3 linked regions of the Homo sapiens genome follow. The protein of the gene in region 1 interacts with the protein of each later gene in a pairwise test. Each region holds a gene or a part of one and is shown on either strand. Other genes may lie near its edges.

The links.
Region 2: the proteins of LHX9 (region 1) and KHK interact in binary tests that used the Homo sapiens proteins (3 or more experiments, as listed by UniProt).
Region 3: the proteins of LHX9 (region 1) and CWF19L2 interact in binary tests that used the Homo sapiens proteins (3 or more experiments, as listed by UniProt).

Annotation. Positions count from the first base shown.
Region 1 is NC_000001.11:197,927,317-197,934,437, forward strand, and holds part of LHX9 (LIM/homeobox protein Lhx9), read left to right. Parts: intron 1-274; coding exon 275-477; intron 478-1,685; coding exon 1,686-1,943; 3' UTR 1,944-4,602; coding exon of another isoform or gene 4,603-4,659; 3' UTR 4,660-7,121. UniProt on the Homo sapiens protein: Involved in gonadal development.
Region 2 is NC_000002.12:27,096,690-27,101,301, forward strand, and holds the end of KHK (ketohexokinase), read left to right. Parts: intron 1-39; coding exon 40-112; intron 113-813; coding exon 814-960; coding exon of another isoform or gene 961-1,374; exon of another isoform or gene 1,375-1,389; intron 1,390-2,506; coding exon 2,507-2,595; intron 2,596-2,663; exon of another isoform or gene 2,664-2,730; coding exon 2,731-2,888; exon of another isoform or gene 2,889-2,975; coding exon 2,976-3,061; 3' UTR 3,062-3,094; coding exon of another isoform or gene 3,095-3,151; 3' UTR 3,152-3,746; coding exon of another isoform or gene 3,747-3,853; 3' UTR 3,854-4,073; downstream 4,074-4,612. Other genes in the region: CGREF1 (cell growth regulator with EF hand domain protein 1 isoform a precursor), read right to left, coding at 4,585-4,612. UniProt on the Homo sapiens protein: Catalyzes the phosphorylation of the ketose sugar fructose to fructose-1-phosphate.
Region 3 is NC_000011.10:107,454,794-107,462,515, reverse strand, and holds the start of CWF19L2 (CWF19-like protein 2), read left to right. Parts: upstream 1-4,690; 5' UTR 4,691-4,699; coding exon 4,700-4,804; intron 4,805-6,739; coding exon 6,740-6,850; intron 6,851-7,722.

The sequences.
Region 1 (7,121 bases):
ATTCTCAAATTCTTCTAGCAACCATTAAACAAAAGAGAGGATTTAACCAATATTTTTCTATTGCATAAACTTTGGTTGTGTCTACATTAACAGAAGAGTTCAGCTTACTTTAGCAATTATCTTCTTTCTTTTTGTCTAGATACTACTCATAATTGGGTTGACAACCTTTTTCACTGCTGCTTTATTACCATAGCAGTGTCATACAGCCTGCCATCATGTCAGCTAATGCAAGAATTTCCACTGAGCAGTTGTTTGTTCACTGTTACTGCAACAGGTTGTAATGAGAATGAGGCAGACCACTTGGACCGGGACCAGCAGCCTTATCCACCCTCGCAGAAGACCAAGCGCATGCGAACCTCTTTCAAGCATCACCAGCTCCGGACCATGAAATCCTACTTTGCCATCAACCACAACCCGGATGCCAAGGACCTCAAGCAGCTTGCCCAGAAAACAGGTCTGACCAAAAGAGTTTTGCAGGTAAGACACATGCATCATTGACTGTGCATACATTTCCCTTCCCCTTCCCAGTAAAAATAGTGCTCTTCCCTGGTTAGAGTGACGCAGATATTTCCTATATTGCTTCTTACTAGTTTATCTTAGCTATCTCCCTAGAGGGTGTTCTGAGATTTTGCAGGGGCTTCCTGGAGGGTTCCCAAACAGAGACCCAGGGTCTTTTTAAATACAGCCACATTCTCTCTACATATGTGGAGATGGGCCCTCCAAAGGCAGCACAGCTTGTCTCACTGCTGTGCAAATGCGAGTGATGTTATTTGCACAGGCCGTGGCTTTATCGATTTCCATTAATATTATGCTCAGTGCACGGACTTGAGAGGGACCTGTTGGCACTGCCTTAACTCGGCAAACTTTTGGCAGCCTCACTCACCTTCCAAATTCAGGTGGAACCTTTTTTCCACTCCTGAAAAGCCAAAAGTATGGTTAGTGTTTCAGCAACCAATTGGAGCAAGTATTTTCCTGCCTTAACAAACCATAATTAGAAACAAAATATTGGAAGTTAGTTCTGCTGTCCAATTGATTTCCTAAACTCATCATGGCAAGAACATATAACTAATGAAATTATGATAGGTTGCTGTGAGTCACCTGTGATCTTCTCTCACTTCTTGGTGACAAATAGCAGGCATTTTAAATTCTGCTAAACAGTTTCAGGCTGTTCGAGGTCTGTGGCCCTGGGAGTTTTTTCTATGTGAAGAATATATACCGTGTGTTGGGCTCACGAATGGCTTGAAGTCTGTTTCAGTGATGTCCATTTCATATGAGTGATTCTTACTTTGCCATACTTTCAATGGCCCTGCTTCTACCTCTTCTCAAAAGATAACAGTTGAGGAATCACCGTGTATTTCCCCCTTTTTATCACCATGTGTTCATTTCCATGGTATATCCACTTAAGCATCAGTTGTTCCAAGTGGCACTTGTTAATGCTACAGGGTGGAATAAGTGCAGTTGAGAGATAATAAATCTGTAGTGTTACTTGAATAACTCTGTTTTAAAAGAAAAGAAAAAAAAGCCCCTTTCCTCCTAAGAAAGACAAACAATGATATTTAAAAGGAGAAACCTATATCAAAAAAAAAAAAGAAAGAAAGAAAAAGAAAAAAAGAAAAAGTGAGAGAGAAAGAAAAGAAATATAAAAATGAACATCGGTAAAGAAATCAATTGGGATTGGTTTGCAGGTTTGGTTCCAAAACGCACGAGCCAAATTCAGAAGGAACCTTTTGCGGCAGGAGAATGGGGGTGTTGATAAAGCTGACGGCACGTCGCTTCCGGCCCCGCCCTCAGCAGACAGCGGAGCTCTCACTCCACCCGGCACTGCGACCACTTTAACAGACCTGACCAATCCCACTATCACTGTAGTGACATCCGTGACCTCTAACATGGACAGCCACGAATCCGGAAGCCCCTCACAAACTACCTTAACAAACCTTTTCTAACATTGGTTTTTTTTTTTTAGTTTTTAAATTCTTCCTCTTCTTTTTATTATTATTCTAATTATTATTATTTTATTATTTACAAGACTTTTTTTTTCTTCTAACCCACAAGATATTTGGGGAATAAAAATAACAGCTTGGTGTGTAGCATCTGCAGCCACTTGGCAAATGAGTTTACAGTATTGTCTCCTTTAAGTGAATATATTTTGTCTACAAAGTGTATTTGGATTTAAAAAAATTAATTAGGTCTTTCAGTTGGTAAGGAGAGTTTTTGAATAATTCTAATAAGTGCCTCTTAAAATTGTATGTTACTTATTTCCAGAATCTCGAAGAAAAAAGAAAAAAGAGTGGTATTATTATGGGCAAATAATCATATTCCCACTTAAATGATTAGGTTAATAAAGAACCAGATAATTAATTAGTTACTTTTTAAATCTTGCAATTGTATGTGTGATTATGGAGTTTTGAAAACGTTACATTTTTTAAATCTTAAAACTGAAAACTTGTTTTTAGTATTTCTATTTCTTACCTGAACTGTTAATTCAAGTGAGGAATATGATGAAATAAAAGCATTAACTACAGACATTTTAAATAGTAATGATTAATTAGGTGAGAAATCTATTACAGGAATGTGACTTTTCCTTCTCTTAGGGGTGTACAACTCTAAAAACTTTTTACTTGGTTATTTGTTTTTCAACATTTGAAAAATACTTAAGCTCCCTATGTATCCATGAAAATTCCGCATTGATTTTGACATTCCATACTTTTAACCTCCTAAAGCTAAAAACAATAGCTCGGAAACCATTCTTTCTAGTTACTTTTTTTCCCAGGGAAAATGGAAATAAGCAAAATATAATGTTTTAAGAAGTAAAAAAATCAATATAATTTAATTAATAGCTCTATTAATTGGCTTCAGCTGTACCATGATATTGTATCTGGCATTCTATATGAATAATGTTTAAAATACCCAGCCTGGTAGACTTATACCAACAATTGGTTTTGTTTTGTTTTATTTTATTTTGACATAGGTTGACTTATGTATTGAAAATAATTTTTCTGATATTAGAGATTTGAAGTTATTAGTCTTAAAGTAGATAAACTCAGAAGCCTTGTGGATGCTGATCTGAATATATTTCCTAGTTTACAGTAGCATTTTTTTCTTTTAATTTAAGCTAAAATCTTAATGGTCTGGGCAGTGGTGAATGTTCATCTATTACGCTTCTGTTGTAGTTAAATACCAATTAGATTGTGGATTTCCTAAAAAAATAAAAAAGAAGTCAAGATATATGTCTTGCTTTAGTGGATTGTTAAGAATAACTTTGCACATATTTTCCACTTTTTGGACCCCTTAAATCTCCTTTGGTGGTCGAAGTGGCTATTTAATAGATTTTAAAGGTGTCCTTCTGGCTGTATAAATGTGTGGTTACATATTGACAGTTCACTGCCCACATTAAAGTGCATTATTGTAACTTTTGCTCAGGGTCTTTAGAAAATTAGCACAGAAAGTAGCTTATTTTTTAAAAAAAGATGATGGAAGATAAGTTAACACTGTAACAGAAGAAAGGTGTGATTGCCATTATATATTTAGCAAGTATGGTTATCATCTTATATGGAGCTTAAATCTTGACTTTTCATACTTCTATTACATTTTGGGCATTTACCACTAACCAGACCAAACAACCTTGGTAAGGCTGAGATCTTATTAATACACTTTTACAGGTAAAATATTGACACTTATAAATTTTGTTCTTTGACAGAACAATATATGGTACTATATAGATCTACTTTATTAAGTAGACTAATTATAACTCAGTTCTCCTATGTGCCTTATGATATAACTTGGAAGTAAGTTTGTGAAAAATCAGGATATATGTGTTGTTTGTTAAATTAACTGTTTTAAGCCCTTTTAACACCTCACTAGTTTTGTACTGTTTTACCTCTTATTTCTGAAACTCTTTTTATGGTGTATCCTGTTAGAGGGGACAAACATGTCATAGAAAGCAGTTGTGCACTCTTTCAAATATAGTTGATAAATTCAATAATCTTATATATTGAGCTTCGTGTTTATAGTACAGTAAGTGGTCTAGCAAAATTGTCCATGTTTCTTTGTTTATTGATAAATGCATTGTATAGAAACTATTTCCCCTAAATATTTATGGACCAAACAATTGTGATATATCCTATTAAATTTGTGTGAATAAAACATTTTGAATCTAAGGAGTTTTCTTTCCCATCAGTTTTATTTAAGTTTTAACCGTACTAGTGTGTTCCAGCATCTATATGTAAAAGCTTTTCAAATGGTAATACAACATTGTTAGAAATATTTAAACATACAAATAGTTTTTAGACTTCCAAACTTCTGATTCATATGAAATGTTACACATTGTTGCACAGGCAGTGTAATTCAACCTAGAAATACCTTTGAATATATTTGCTTATAACAAAAGTAATGCCCCACTGATTTGACTCAGTCCAATTTTTAGAATAAAAAGGCTAATTAGCATATAAAGTAATTGCATGGAACGAAACCTTAAATATGATTAAGATTTCATGTTAGGTCTATTGAGCACAAATGGATATTTGTAAATCTAAATAGAAATTGCAGACCCCTAAAAGCCAAGTTGCTCTGTAGTTAATAAATTGTCACTATGATTTTTTTCAGGGAGAACAAATCTTGGGGCATTACAGCCAAACATCCCGACGTTTGAAAATTCCCTAAAGTATTAAAAGAAGGGGAAAAGTTTGATCGGAAATCCACTGCAGTGAAGACAAAGACACTATTAGGTTATGATAATCATACATTAAAAAATTTATTAAGCCAAAAAAAAAGAGAGAGAGAGAGACTTAAATGTCATTTACTGAATGTTAACGAAACTTGTGTTCTTTATGGTGTCTAACACAACTGAAGGCCTAAAATTATGTGGTTTAAACAAAATTAGATAAACCATGTACAAAACCAGAGCAACCTGGCAGTAATATGCCCACCCCATATTTGAAAAAAATTATTATTGAAAAAAATTTCACACATTTGTCAAGCACAGTTGTAAAATAAAGTCCAAAACATTCATTTCACCTGCTTGCTAATGTGTATTAGTCCTGTTAATGGCATTTTCCAACTGTAAATTCAAAGAAAAGCTATCACCCATTTAAGAGTATAGGGATCAAACCCCAGTAATTTTAGCATTATTGTTTATCACTTCCTTTTTAAACAGAAATCTCTGCATGCACTTTTACATATGTCACCTCTAGTGTACACCTCTGTATGATGACTTATCTTTGCTGTTTCTTGTATGATAAATAGCTTTCATTAATAAACATTTATTTGATGCAAACATAGTTAACTTTATGTTAAACACATGCTGTTGAAATTAATTTTGAACACTTAAAGAGGCAGCACAGTACATTTACAACTTGTTATACTAATGAAAAAATACAAACAGCATAGTGAGATTAAATTCTGGTAATCTAGGATAAAATTACTTACTTGGTTTTTACCTTTTCATGACTTATTTTCATTTGTTGTATTCAATTGCCACATGTATTAAAAATAAAAAACAAAGTGAACCCAAATTACAACAAAATAAACCTTAGAATAAACTATTGTGTAAAATTTCAGCAACTTTTTTAGATTACTAGGGTAAAATTTATAGATCCTATGTGAGTTTACATGTTTGCTATGCAATGAACAAATTTATTGATGTATACAAATATATTCTGAACTATAAAAAGATCCAATCTTTGCATAGTTCAATTACATATGATTATTACAAACAAAAAAGCAAATGGAAAGACAGACAAATATTTAGGAATGAGGTTTTTTTTAATTGTTAAAGGGAATATTTGAAGAATAAAATTTTAGCTATTCCTATTTAGCCGTATATCCAAAGCATATGTTAAACAAACTAACATATACTTTCCAGAAAATTTTTCATTATGATGAAATTTTTATTATATACAAATGAACCCTATGTAAATGATGTAACTTTTATGAATGACAGACATTAAATATTTCACTTACATGTATTCTCAGAATTTTGAATGTTTTCTTAAATGCTTTCACTTCCTGAATAATAAAAAGAAAAAATTTTAAAGAAGAGAGAGCAACTTACTAATAAAAAAAAGCAATGCACCATGACAAGTAGACTATTTTGAGTGATCACAAATCATGCTGGTTTTGTCAGTAACTTGAATGTTTATGCCTCATTGAAACCTCATCCACAGCTATAGCAACTTAAATAGATTTTCCAATGCATTTCCAGCCAGTTTATTCAAATCTTTGCCCTACAGTCTTGCCTTCTTTCCCTGTTCTGTCACCTGTGGCAATTTCATTTAGAAGTATTTTGGAACTTCGCCTGGTTTTACAGACCTTTAAATATTTGTCTGGTATGTGAAATGCAGGAAGAGACCAGAGAGGGAAAGAACATAACTGAAATTAGACATCTGAAAAAAAAATACAAATTTGAAACAGGCACATTTTTTAAAACCAAAAAAAAAAAAAAAAAGAGAGAGAGAGAGAAAGGAGTACTAATTATGTGAGTGGGAAGAGGAAGCGTGTGATGCAGAGCTGGAAGGTCTGTTGTGCTTTACTGTGATGTAAAGCAGTCTTTGAGTCTGGGCAACTGCACATTTACTGTTTGGTGTGGAATAGAAAAATGTGGACCTCTTAGTTGAGAGCAGGACACTAAATTTTCATAGCTTCTACCTCCCAGTTGCCTGGGTTAGTCTAACTTCTGGCAGATTGATCTTGGGCAAAAAGCTTCACTGAGAGTTAGTGTCTGTGTGCTTTGGTTGAATAGCCACCTTAATACTGACTTACATAGTGGGTAGGTTTTTGATACCTCAAATAAGGATAAAACTCCATAATAAAGGACCCAAAGCAAATACTTTTAAAACTTAGGTGATTTTTCATCACCTAAAACATAAATAGCTTTATTTAGCAAAATCCCAGTGGAATCTACCACACATTCTTTTATAATAACCCTTTTTTGGGAGTCAAAGTATTGTTTTTTTATTAGCCACATATAAATATCATCTCATTTTCTGTTGCAGTGTGACTGCAAGGCATGTTGTGGTGGAAATCATTAGAACTGGGAAGCTCTGGAATGGAAATTTGGAATCGTGTCATTCTAGGCTCTTAAAGAGAATATTAGGGATAATACTGTTGTAAAAAATAAATATAAA
Region 2 (4,612 bases), on another chromosome or scaffold:
ATGCTCCTTCTTCTCTGTCTTTTCCATCCTGTGACCTAGGAGCCTGCCAGATGTGTCTGCTACAGACTTTGAGAAGGTTGATCTGACCCAGTTCAAGTGGATCCACATTGAGGTAAGCCCTGCCTTACCTGTGTTTCAAGGGGCTCAACCTGCCAGCCTCCTCCACATGTTCTGCCTCCTTGGTTTCTTTGAATCATGAAGTACCTTAGAGATAAATGAACCCAACCCCCTCATTCTCTCTCCATCTTTCCTTATGTCTTCAGGTGAGAAAACTAAGGCCCAGAAAGATTAGATGACTTACTCAAGGTCACACAGCAGAACGTAAGCACAGCTGGCTCCAGGCAAAGTCCTGTGCTTTCTGTGCTACGGGCTGCCCCATTGCCTCCAACTCTGCCTCTGGCGGATGTCTGACTGCTTAGGGCCTGACCCATTACCTCTGGGGAAGCAGGAAGGACAGGGCCTGACTCAGCTCCCAAATAAAGGGAACTAGAGCCTTTACTCCAAGAGAGGTTTTGGAGTCTGGGTGGAAGGAAATCCTGAGAAGTCCTGAGTTCTAGCTCCATCATTTAACCTATGGTAGGTCTTTCACAGTATCTTTTATTCTTTAGTCTTCTCATCTGTGGAATGGAGTAGCTGGTTGATAAGGTCTTCAAAGTCCACGACAGCTCTGAATGTTGTAATTTAGGATGGGGTTCTAGCCCAGCCTCCCCGAGGCCCTCTCCCTCCTCACCCAGAGTTTCAGCGGGGCAGGAAGAATGAGGCAGATTGGCCAGGCAGTGCCCAGCGGTCCTGAGCTGCCCTGTCCTGTACCAGGGCCGGAACGCATCGGAGCAGGTGAAGATGCTGCAGCGGATAGACGCACACAACACCAGGCAGCCTCCAGAGCAGAAGATCCGGGTGTCCGTGGAGGTGGAGAAGCCACGAGAGGAGCTCTTCCAGCTGTTTGGCTACGGAGACGTGGTGGGTGCCCCATTCAGCCTCTCTTTGCCACTTCCAGCTAATTTGGTTCTTAAAGGGAGCCAGAATCCTTTTATCCTGCCTACCACAATTGGAATAGTGGTTCCTGGTTTGGTGGTGTTTGAAGATGGGGGATGGGGGTTAAAGCAAAGAAGTAGACCCCTAGCCTTGGGCTCCAGTGCAGGCCTCAGCAGTGAGCAAGGAGTAGAATGTCTCCACCCCAGGTGGGTGCATAGGTGTAAGAATGCCCAGAGGGCTTGGGTAGGGCTTAAACAGCCACAGGGCAAGCCTGTGTGGAAGCATCTCCTCTCTGGGGCTCCCCAGTCTTTTCCTCTGCAGAATGAGGGCACACAACTGTTCTCTGAGGTTTCTTCCAACTCAGGGGTGTCTGGCAGGTTGTGGGGGCTGCTAGGGTGAGGGAAGGGTGGGAAGGAGACTTGCATGAGTCTCTTTTTGAAAAGGCTGGATGTAAATGGAATTTGGGAAGTAATCCCAGCATCATAGCAGAAGTTGGTTGGAGACCATCCAGCCAAGGTCCTCAACCTTGTGACTTGTCCTCAACCTTGGCTGCATATTAAAAAAGATGAATGCAGGCCAAGTGTAGTGGCTCACACTTGTAATCCCAGAGCTTTGGGAAGCTGAGGTAGGAGGATTGCTTGATGCCAGGAGTCCAAGACCAGCCTGGACAACATAGCAAGACCCCTGTCTCTATGAAAATAAATTAGGCCAAGAGCAGTGACTCATACCTGTAATCCCAGCACCTTGGGAGGCCAATGCAGGAGGATCACTTCAGCCAGTCATTCAAGATTGCAAGACCCTGTCTCTATACAAAAAAAAAAAAAAAAAATTCCTGGCATGGTGGTGTGCACCCATAGTCCCAGCTACTCAGGAGGCTGAGGCAGGAGGATTGCAGTGCCTGAGCCCCACCATCTTGTTTTTGATTGGCAGGGGTAGAGCCAAGGCTTCGGTGTTTTGTTTTTTGTTTTTACCAAAACTTTCTCTGGAGATTCTAAAGTGTAGGTAGTGTTGAGGGAGCCTCTTTGTTTTCCAGATGAAGAAACCATACCTAGAGGACATAGTTGTGGGAAAAACCAGCAAAACTGCTCCAGGGAGCCAGCATGGCGGTGGTAGATTCCACCCCAAGGTGGCGCTCAAGGCTTTCTGTGGGTTTTCAATCCATTGATCAGAGAACAAACGGACCAGGCCTTTTGTTTTACAATTTACAAGGCTGTATTCTATTATATATAAGCATCGATAAAAATATGCTTCTGGCCAGGTGCAGTGACTCACACCTGTAATCCCAGAAATTTTGGGAGGCTGAGGCAGGAAGATCATATGGGGCCAGGAGTTCAAGACCAGCCTCAGGGAGACCATCTTCACAAAAAATAAAGAAAAAAGAAAACCACGTTCCCGTGGGACAGTGAGATGCTACGTTGGGGATCTATGTGGACATGTTGGGGGAGTCGTGTTGTAATGGGGGCAACGCTAGGCTGCTGTTGGTGAATGACGAGTTAGAAGTGACCACCAGCTTCTCTTCCACTGCCCACAGGTGTTTGTCAGCAAAGATGTGGCCAAGCACTTGGGGTTCCAGTCAGCAGAGGAAGCCTTGAGGGGCTTGTATGGTCGTGTGAGGAAAGGGTGAGCCGGGGAAGCCAGGAAGGGGCTTTAGAAGGTACAGGATGAGCCTGGACTCCAGGAGTCCGCCCTGGAGCTGGGAGGATGGCTGGGGGGACGGGGTGGGCTAACACCCAGCTGAGTGGAGCCGTCTTGCAGGGCTGTGCTTGTCTGTGCCTGGGCTGAGGAGGGCGCCGACGCCCTGGGCCCTGATGGCAAATTGCTCCACTCGGATGCTTTCCCGCCACCCCGCGTGGTGGATACACTGGGAGCTGGAGACACCTTCAATGCCTCCGTCATCTTCAGCCTCTCCCAGGGTGAGTATGGCAGCAGGAGGGGAAAAGGACTGGGACCTGTCCCTGCCCCAAACACCTGGCTGACCTAGCTACTTGCCCCTCCTCCAGGGAGGAGCGTGCAGGAAGCACTGAGATTCGGGTGCCAGGTGGCCGGCAAGAAGTGTGGCCTGCAGGGCTTTGATGGCATCGTGTGAGAGCAGGTGCCGGCTCCTCACACACCATGGAGACTACCATTGCGGCTGCATCGCCTTCTCCCCTCCATCCAGCCTGGCGTCCAGGTTGCCCTGTTCAGGGGACAGATGCAAGCTGTGGGGAGGACTCTGCCTGTGTCCTGTGTTCCCCACAGGGAGAGGCTCTGGGGGGATGGCTGGGGGATGCAGAGCCTCAGAGCAAATAAATCTTCCTCAGAGCCAGCTTCTCCTCTCAATGTCTGAACTGCTCTGGCTGGGCATTCCTGAGGCTCTGACTCTTCGATCCTCCCTCTTTGTGTCCATTCCCCAAATTAACCTCTCCGCCCAGGCCCAGAGGAGGGGCTGCCTGGGCTAGAGCAGCGAGAAGTGCCCTGGGCTTGCCACCAGCTCTGCCCTGGCTGGGGAGGACACTCGGTGCCCCACACCCAGTGAACCTGCCAAAGAAACCGTGAGAGCTCTTCGGGGCCCTGCGTTGTGCAGACTCTATTCCCACAGCTCAGAAGCTGGGAGTCCACACCGCTGAGCTGAACTGACAGGCCAGTGGGGGGCAGGGGTGCGCCTCCTCTGCCCTGCCCACCAGCCTGTGATTTGATGGGGTCTTCATTGTCCAGAAATACCTCCTCCCGCTGACTGCCCCAGAGCCTGAAAGTCTCACCCTTGGAGCCCACCTTGGAATTAAGGGCGTGCCTCAGCCACAAATGTGACCCAGGATACAGAGTGTTGCTGTCCTCAGGGAGGTCCGATCTGGAACACATATTGGAATTGGGGCCAACTCCAATATAGGGTGGGTAAGGCCTTATAATGTAAAGAGCATATAATGTAAAGGGCTTTAGAGTGAGACAGACCTGGATTAAAATCTGCCATTTAATTAGCTGCATATCACCTTAGGGTACAGCACTTAACGCAATCTGCCTCAATTTCTTCATCTGTCAAATGGAACCAATTCTGCTTGGCTACAGAATTATTGTGAGGATAAAATCATATATAAAATGCCCAGCATGATGCCTGATGTGTACAAGGCTCTCAAAAAGTTCTAGTGATGATTAATATTACTGGGGATGGGGTCACCTGCCCTGAGCTGCAGGAGAGCATGGGGTGTCTGAACACCAGGTGAGGGGGAACCGGTGAGGGTTTGGGGCCCAGGGATAGACTGAGCTTTCCTCACTGGGTCCTCTGCAGCCGGCCATGGCTAGCACCATGCGCTCTGCTGCCGGAGCACCGTGAGGCCCAGAAACACTGGGCAGGCGGCATCCCTGTCCTTTCGGTCCCCAACCCCGTTCCTCTGAGAGGGTCTGGGCAGGCTGGACGGGTAGAGAGGTGGCCGGGGGGATGAATTCATTCAGTTCTTTATTGGTAATCTGCCCCTTAACTTAGGGTCTCCCTGAGCTGCACAGAAAGACCTGATACCTACTGGGACCAGGCAGGGGGCACAGAGATGGTCCTTGTCCCAGCGTACATTTCCCCTGCCCACTTCAGGGCTTATGTTCTGGCACTGAGACTTCGTGGGGTACCTGTATCTTCAAGATCTAGATCTCATCATTCTCCACTTGAACA
Region 3 (7,722 bases), on another chromosome or scaffold:
GCAAGAGAAAGAAATAAAGGGTATTCTAATAGCAAGAGAGGAAGTCAAATTGTCTCTGTTAGCAGATGACATGATTGTATATTTAGAAAACCCCACCGTCTCAGCCCAAAATCTCCTTAAGCTGATAAGCAACTTCAGCAAAGTCTCAGGATACAAAATCAATGTGCAAAAATCACAAGCATTCCTATACACCAATAACAGACAAACAGAGAGCCAAATCATGAGTGAACTCCCATTCACAATTGCTACAAAGAGAATAAAATACCTAGGAATACAACTTATAAGAGATGTGAAGGAACTCTTCAAGGAGAACTACAAACCACTGCTCAAGGAAATAAGAGAGGACACAAACAAATGGAAAAACATTCCATGCTCATGGATAGGAAGAATCAATACTGTAAAAATGACCATACTGTCCAAAGTAATTTATAGGTGCAATGCTATCCCCATCAAGTTACCATTGACTTTCTTCACAGAATTAGAAAAAACTACTTTAAATTTCATATGGAACAAAAAAAGAGCCTGCATAGCCAAGACAATCCTAAGCAAAAAGAACAAAGCTGGAGGCATCACATTACCTGACTTCAAACTATACTACAAGGCTACAGTAACCAAAACAACATGGTGCTAGTACCAAAACAGATATATAGACCAATGGAACAGAACAGAGGCCTCAGAAATAACACCACACATCCACAACCATCTGATCTTTGACAAACCTGACAAAATCAAGAAATGGAGAAAGGATTCCCTATTTAATAAATGGTGTTGGGAAAACTGGCTAGGCATATGCAGAACACTGAAACTGGACCCCTTCCTTACACCTTATACAAAAATTAACTCAAGATGGATTAAAGACTTAAATGTAAGACCTAAAACCATAAAAACCCTAGAAGAAAACCTAGGCAATACCATTCAGGACATAGGCTTGGGCAAACACTTCATGACTAAAACACCAAAAGCAATGGCAACAAAAGCCGAAATTGGCAAATGGGATCTAATTAAACTAAAGAGCTTATGCACAGCAAAAGAAACTATCATCAGTGAACAGGCAACCTACAGAATGGGAGAAAATTTTTGCAATCTGTTCATCTGACAAAGGGCTAATATCCAGAATCTACAAAGAACTTCAACAAATTTACAAGAAAAAAACAACCCCATCAGAAAGTGGGCTAAGGGTATGAACAGACACTTTTCAAAAGAAGACATTTATGCAGCCAATAAACATATGAAAAAAAGCTCATCTTCACTGGTCATTAGAGAAATGCCAATCAAACCACAATGAGATACCATCTCATGCCAATTAGAATGGCGATCATTAAAAAGCCAGGAGACAACAGATGCTGGAGAGGATGTAGAGAAATAGGAATGCTTTTACACTGTTGGTGGGAGTGTAAACTAGTTCAACCATTGTGGAAGACAGTGTGGTGATTCCTCAAGGATCTAGAACCAGAAATAACATTTGTCCCAGCAATCCCATTACTGGGTATATACCCAAAGGATTATAAATCATTCTACTATAAAGACATGCACACGTACGTTTATCTCTGCACTGTTCACAATAGCAAAGACTTGGAACCAACCCGAATGCCCATCAATGATAGACTGGTTTAAGAAAATGTGTTACATATACACCATGGAATACTATGCAGCCATAAAAAGGATGAGTTTATGTCCTTTGCAGGGACATGGATGAAGCTGGAAACCATCATTCTCAGCAAACTAACACAAGAACAGAAAACCAAACACCGCATGTACTCATAAGTGGGAGTTGAACAATGAGAACACATGGACACAGAGAGGGAACATCACACACCAGGGCCTGTTGGGGGGTGAGGGGCTGGGGGAGGGATAGCATTAGGAGAAATACCTAATGTAGATGACGGGTTGATGGGTGCAGCATACCTCCATACCACGTGTATACCTATGTAACAAACCTGCACATTCTGTACATGTACCCCAGAACTTAAAGTATATATATATATATATATATATATATATATATATATATATATATATATATATATATAAAGAATGTGGGTACATGTCTAAAGGACACAGGAACCAGCTTGAAAGGGCTCTCACTGGCCTAACCTGGACCAATTTGAGGATCAAAATAAATACTGATAACGAATTTTTATCCCACTGAACAAAAACAGGAATCCACTGAGAAATTATGAATCTGTATTATATAAAAATAAATAACTTGAAAATTTGGTACATGATCTACATAGTTTCAAAGAACCACTTCACAAAATACTTATTATAGAAGGAAAAGAGGTACTTTACAGCAGAGAAGCTCTGCAGATGCCAGTTTATTTAAATGATCAGAATTAACATCACCTGTAATGGAACAAATGGAAATCATGCGCTACCCAACAGGATGCAGTAAGACCGCCTCACTTCTGTGATCGTCCTGCTTAAGAGGCCAAATTTGAATTTAATCACAAAAGAACCTCCGACAAACCCAAGTTGAGTGACATTCTATAACACAACTATCCTGCAATCTTCATGAAACTTTTGTAGTTAATTGTGATCATCTGACCTATTTCTGGATCATAGGATTTAAATGAAAGAAACTGAACTAGGCTTTAGGAAAAGCCATCATTTTTCTAATAAAAAATGAGGCCAGCTTAGCTAACAACGTTTACCCTTTGTCCTTTCTCTTTATTCTTGTTTATCAGATGCCGTGAACAGATGTGAAAGAATATGATACCCTGCTTGTGACTACAAATACTAAAGTCACAGACTGCAACAAAGCGAAAAAGGATAAACTATTTGGCTCCTTCAGCAATTGCACCAAGCCTGGACCAGTTACTTTTAGGCTCCTTGTTACGTTATCCTTTATTTGATTAAGCCATGTGACTGGATTCGCATTAGGTGTGGCCAAATGCAAACCTAGCCAAAATAACCTGCTTTTTCTTTCTTTTCTTTTCTTTTCTTTTTTCTATTTTAACATATCTAGTTCCCCTCTCTAACCCCAACTTTTTTTTGGGCAGTTTTATTTGTATTGCATGGTATTTACAAATTAATTGAGAAATGATTTTTTATGATGTTTTCTTCTTTAAGCACATAGTATACCTCTCCATTCGTTCTAGTCTTTTTGGGGAGCTTATGCAAGATTTTAAAGTTTTCTTCATATAACTTTGCACATTGCTCTAGACCGAATGTTTGTTTCCCCAAAATTCTTATGTTGAAATCTAATCCCCAATGTGCTGGTATATGGAGGTAGGGACTCTGGGAGGTGATTAGGTCATGAGAGCAGCACCCTCATGAATTCCTATAAAAGAAGTTCTAGAGAGATCCCTCTCCCTTTCCGCCATATGAGACACAGCAAAAATACTGCCCTCTAGGAACCAGGACACACCTTCACTAGACAGCAAATAGCCCAACACCTTGATTTTATCCAGCCTCCAGAACTGTAAGACATACTTGTTTGTTATTTATAAGCCATCCATTCTATAATATTTTGTTATAGCAGCCTGAACTGATTAAAACACACACGTTTCTAATATAATCACAGTTTATTTTTATTGAATTGATGCAAAACAGTGAAATGGATGTTTTTCTGAATTCCAAGAGAATCTGAAAAGACGTTGATGCTAGTTATGACAAATATCAGTCAATGTAGTCAGTTGATTAAATATTACAAGGTCGATTAGTAAATTACATTTTAAAATAAAATGAATACTTTCTATTGCATATCAAACAAGTAGGCATTGTGTGTTCAAGATTCAGACTCATAGAATGGTAGTGAATGTAAAAACTCTTGGAAAGCTTCTTGCAAACACACATTAAATTTTATGAAACCTGAAGAGAAAGAGTATTTACCTCAACCTGGCTTATGTTACTTATTTTTAGCGTCTTTAAGGTATCGTTTATAATTAATTCCCCAGCCTTCTTCTTCTTGTAAATGTAAGCTTAGTGTCTTATGTTCTCAAAGCACTTCATCACCTTAGAATGTCTTATTCTTCTGAACTTAAAAGTTTTATGTTTGGGCGATACATGCGTAAAACAAAACAAAGAAATCTCCGCAGAAATAAATAAGTAACTGTCCATTGTAATGAAAAATGCTTGGATGGATAAGTATGAGTAAATAATATGGGGTCAGAGGAAAAAATATAATGTAAACTTCTAACAAGTTAAGCACGGGTAAATTGTGAAGTGCAATGCAAAATTCACATGAGTGTTTCATATATTAAGTAAAATCCACCAAAACAAAACACTGAATCTTCAAGGCAATTCTGTCCTTCCTGCCAGCTGCCACTACCTTTCTGGCAGCCTCCCTTTATCCCATTCCTCCAGCACAGGGAAATGATGCTCTGGCGACAAAGGGTACTTCCGCAGAAAACTTTTGAGAGGTACCAACTTAACTTCCAAGAGCTTGTAACTTACTCCGGTGATTTTAAGACGAAATTGGTGAGAAAGCTGTTAATATAGTAAAAAGTGCATAATAAATATATACGGGTATTAATCCTGCTCACAATCGCACCCAACACCTGAAAGAATTAAACCCTCCAACACCCTTCGGGTCTTTAAAATCTGGGCTGCGGTAATCCGAGCCCTAAGCGACCTCAGATGTGCGCATGCCCTGTTGGTGGAGCCGTGCTCCTCCTTCCTCGGGTCCGGAAGTCCCGGTTTGTTTGTTAAATTACGACCGTCGTAAACTAGAATTTTCTTGCGGCTTCTTAGCTTTACGATGGCAACAAGTATGGCGGCTGCTAGTGGTAGATTTGAAAGTGCGAAGAGTATCGAAGAGCGGAAAGAACAGACCCGGAATGCCAGGGCCGAGGTGTTGCGCCAGGTACCTCTGTTTTGGGGCTTTTGTAGTTATTTATTGTTGTGGGAGTTGAGGGTTCCCGTAAGCTAGCCCACTCACCCCTTCCCTTACCTCGTCAGTACTGAATCTCACCTTAATTTGGGTGAGTTCTCCCTTTGCAATGCCGGTAAACCCTTTTGTAGCTACCGATTTTTTAGATGTTCTGGCAGGTGCCAGTTGCTAATTCTCTTTTCAGGCAGATCTGTCGCTTTTTCTCCAAGTTTCTTTACCTTTTAAGTTACCCATTCTTTACATTTCTATCACTCGGACTGCACACTTTGTAGGTCCCCTGCGGCTTGTAAGGACTCTGCCAGCATGTCTCGCAGCCTCAGTCATTGCTACTGCTGTATCTGAAATGAGATTTTCCTTTTTCGGAAACACATTCAAGTCACACTTGAATAGACTCAGTTTGACATTTCCTCCTCCTGTCTCTATTGGTATCAATTCCAGACTTACTGTAAGCTCTTACCAATCCAAACAAAAGTTAACACCAATCTCAGTATATTTAGCCTGTCACAAAAGATCGCGAAACATTGTATTTCTCACTAAACTTCAGATACATAGAGGTAACATACAAAGAATGGAGAAAGTAAGCTTCTGAATTATCTGACAATCTATTCAATATGTAAGAAGTGTGGCAATGAAAGAGAAAAGTTGCAGTTGGAGAGCAACAGAGAATTCAGTGAGGGTTTTTGTTTTTATTTAAGTTGGAAGAGTTTTAAACAAGTTTAAATGCAAATGAGAAGGAGCCAGCAGAGAAGAGGGAGAGGAGACTCTAAAGGGAAAATGACATAGTTTCAAAATTTGGCAAATAATTTGAGGGTGAAGCAGCCCCATTCTCCTTTAATCTCCAATTTTCTCACCCTGTTCTTTGGAGTCCATCATAAGCCCTGCTCTTTTCTCTGATATCGATTTTTCTGTTTGGTATATAACCATTGTATTCATCTTCTTGCCTACACCAAGAATTATTATATGCACCCAGGGAAAAGCTAGCTGCAGAATGTTGGACTACCTCTCCATGATTTTCCCTTTTCTGGAATATTAACTCTTCTAGTTCTTGTTGCTTCAGCAGTTCTCTGATATAAACCTTTAATAAATTATTTTTATATTTGATTAAAAAAAAAAAGAAAATGACTACAGCCAGGTTTTAAAGGGGAAGAGTGGGCGATTAGTCTTGGGTAGGTGAAATGTTGGTATTGTTTCGTAATTTCAACATATGTAATGTGTGTGTGTGGGTATATATATATTATTCATTCTTTTCTCTTTGGTATTTCCAGCAGTTTTTGGAGGGAGTAAGTTTCGTAAGTTGAGATAAATCTTATAGTAGAGATATGCATAGAATTTGAAAAGGACCAAACTGAGCTTTGGAGTTACAGGGAAAGAAAGAGGGCAGGAACGATTTCCTAGGAAAAACTTGCTTTGTTTGACTATCATTGAAGAATGGATAAAAATTACCAATATGATCCTTTCTTTATACAGAGATGATTCTTCCTGAGGCATTTTTGGGGCTGGGTATTGGGGCTACAGGCATTGCATATTGAAGGCGTGGAGGTCTAACTGTTGCAAAAGTCTTAAGGCAGTAGCCATGGGAATGGTGAAGGGAAAAGGGATTCCAAGTCATATTGAGCTAGGGAGCTTAGAGAGATGGGAGGGCCTGGACTCAGTCCCTGGATTCTCTCTGATTGGTAACTCAAATCACTGGAGATTGGAAATGCAGAAGGAGAGATTTTTGCTTTGTTTTGTTTATTTATTTATTTTTTTATTTTTTTACACTGGAGAAGCAAATCCCTGGCAAGGAATAGACATTCATTCATGAGTGGATATTTTTGTATAAAAATGACAGAGGTTTTTGTTTTCCTTTTTTTGTGAAACCCAGTTGGGTCAATTGCCAGTTTGTCTTTTTTTTTTCTTTGGTTGTAGGCTAAAGCCAATTTTGAAAAAGAAGAAAGGCGTAAAGAACTTAAGCGACTTCGGGGTGAGGATACATGGATGCTACCTGATGTGAATGAGAGAATTGAACAGTTCTCACAGGTGAATACTAACAGGTTTACGTGATGTAAGGATATCTGTCCTTTTTTGCACGTATTCAAGTTAATATTGGATGAATAATTTTATAGAATGTTTTCATAAGTTACAAAATGAATATCACATAGTTGGCATTGCTGAATAGTTTCATCTCTTTGGCAGAGGTAAGATATTGTAATATTTTGGACATTATGACTCAAGTTTTGTTATTTGAGTTTGGCTAGTAGAAGACAGCTTCAAATTTCTGGCCCACTATAGCAAGCTTATAGGCCTAAAAATTTATGCATTTTAAGCTTTATGTATTTATTTTATTTTATTTTTTTAGGTCTCAAGCCTGTTTTCCTATAATTTTTTTAAAAATTATTTTTAATTGACAAATAATAATTGTGTAAATTTATGGGTTAGAGTGTGATGGTTTGATCTATGTATACATTATAGAAAGATTCAGTCAAGCTAATGAACATATCCATCACCTCATCAACTTATTTTTTTGTGGTGAGAACGTTAAAAGTCTGTTCTTCAATGGCTTTGAAATAGATAATACCTTATTATTAAATGTGGTCATCAGTAATAGATCACTAAAACTTATTTCTAGTGTCATGAAAACTTTGTACCCTTTGATCAACATCTTCCCTTTCCCTATCCTTGCTCCTTCCCCTAGCCTCTTCCTATAATTTTAATTTGTGCTATCTTGTTATATTTTTTATGGCCTAATAGTCTTGTATAAATTTTTGGGGAGACCATAGAGGGATATTATATGTATGTGTGTTTGTGTGTGTATAGATGCATGTATACATGTTTGTGTATATATGTGTTTATTTGATTATATTTGTCACATTAATCTACAAATAAAGCCAAAATTTTCCCAGTATTTTTCT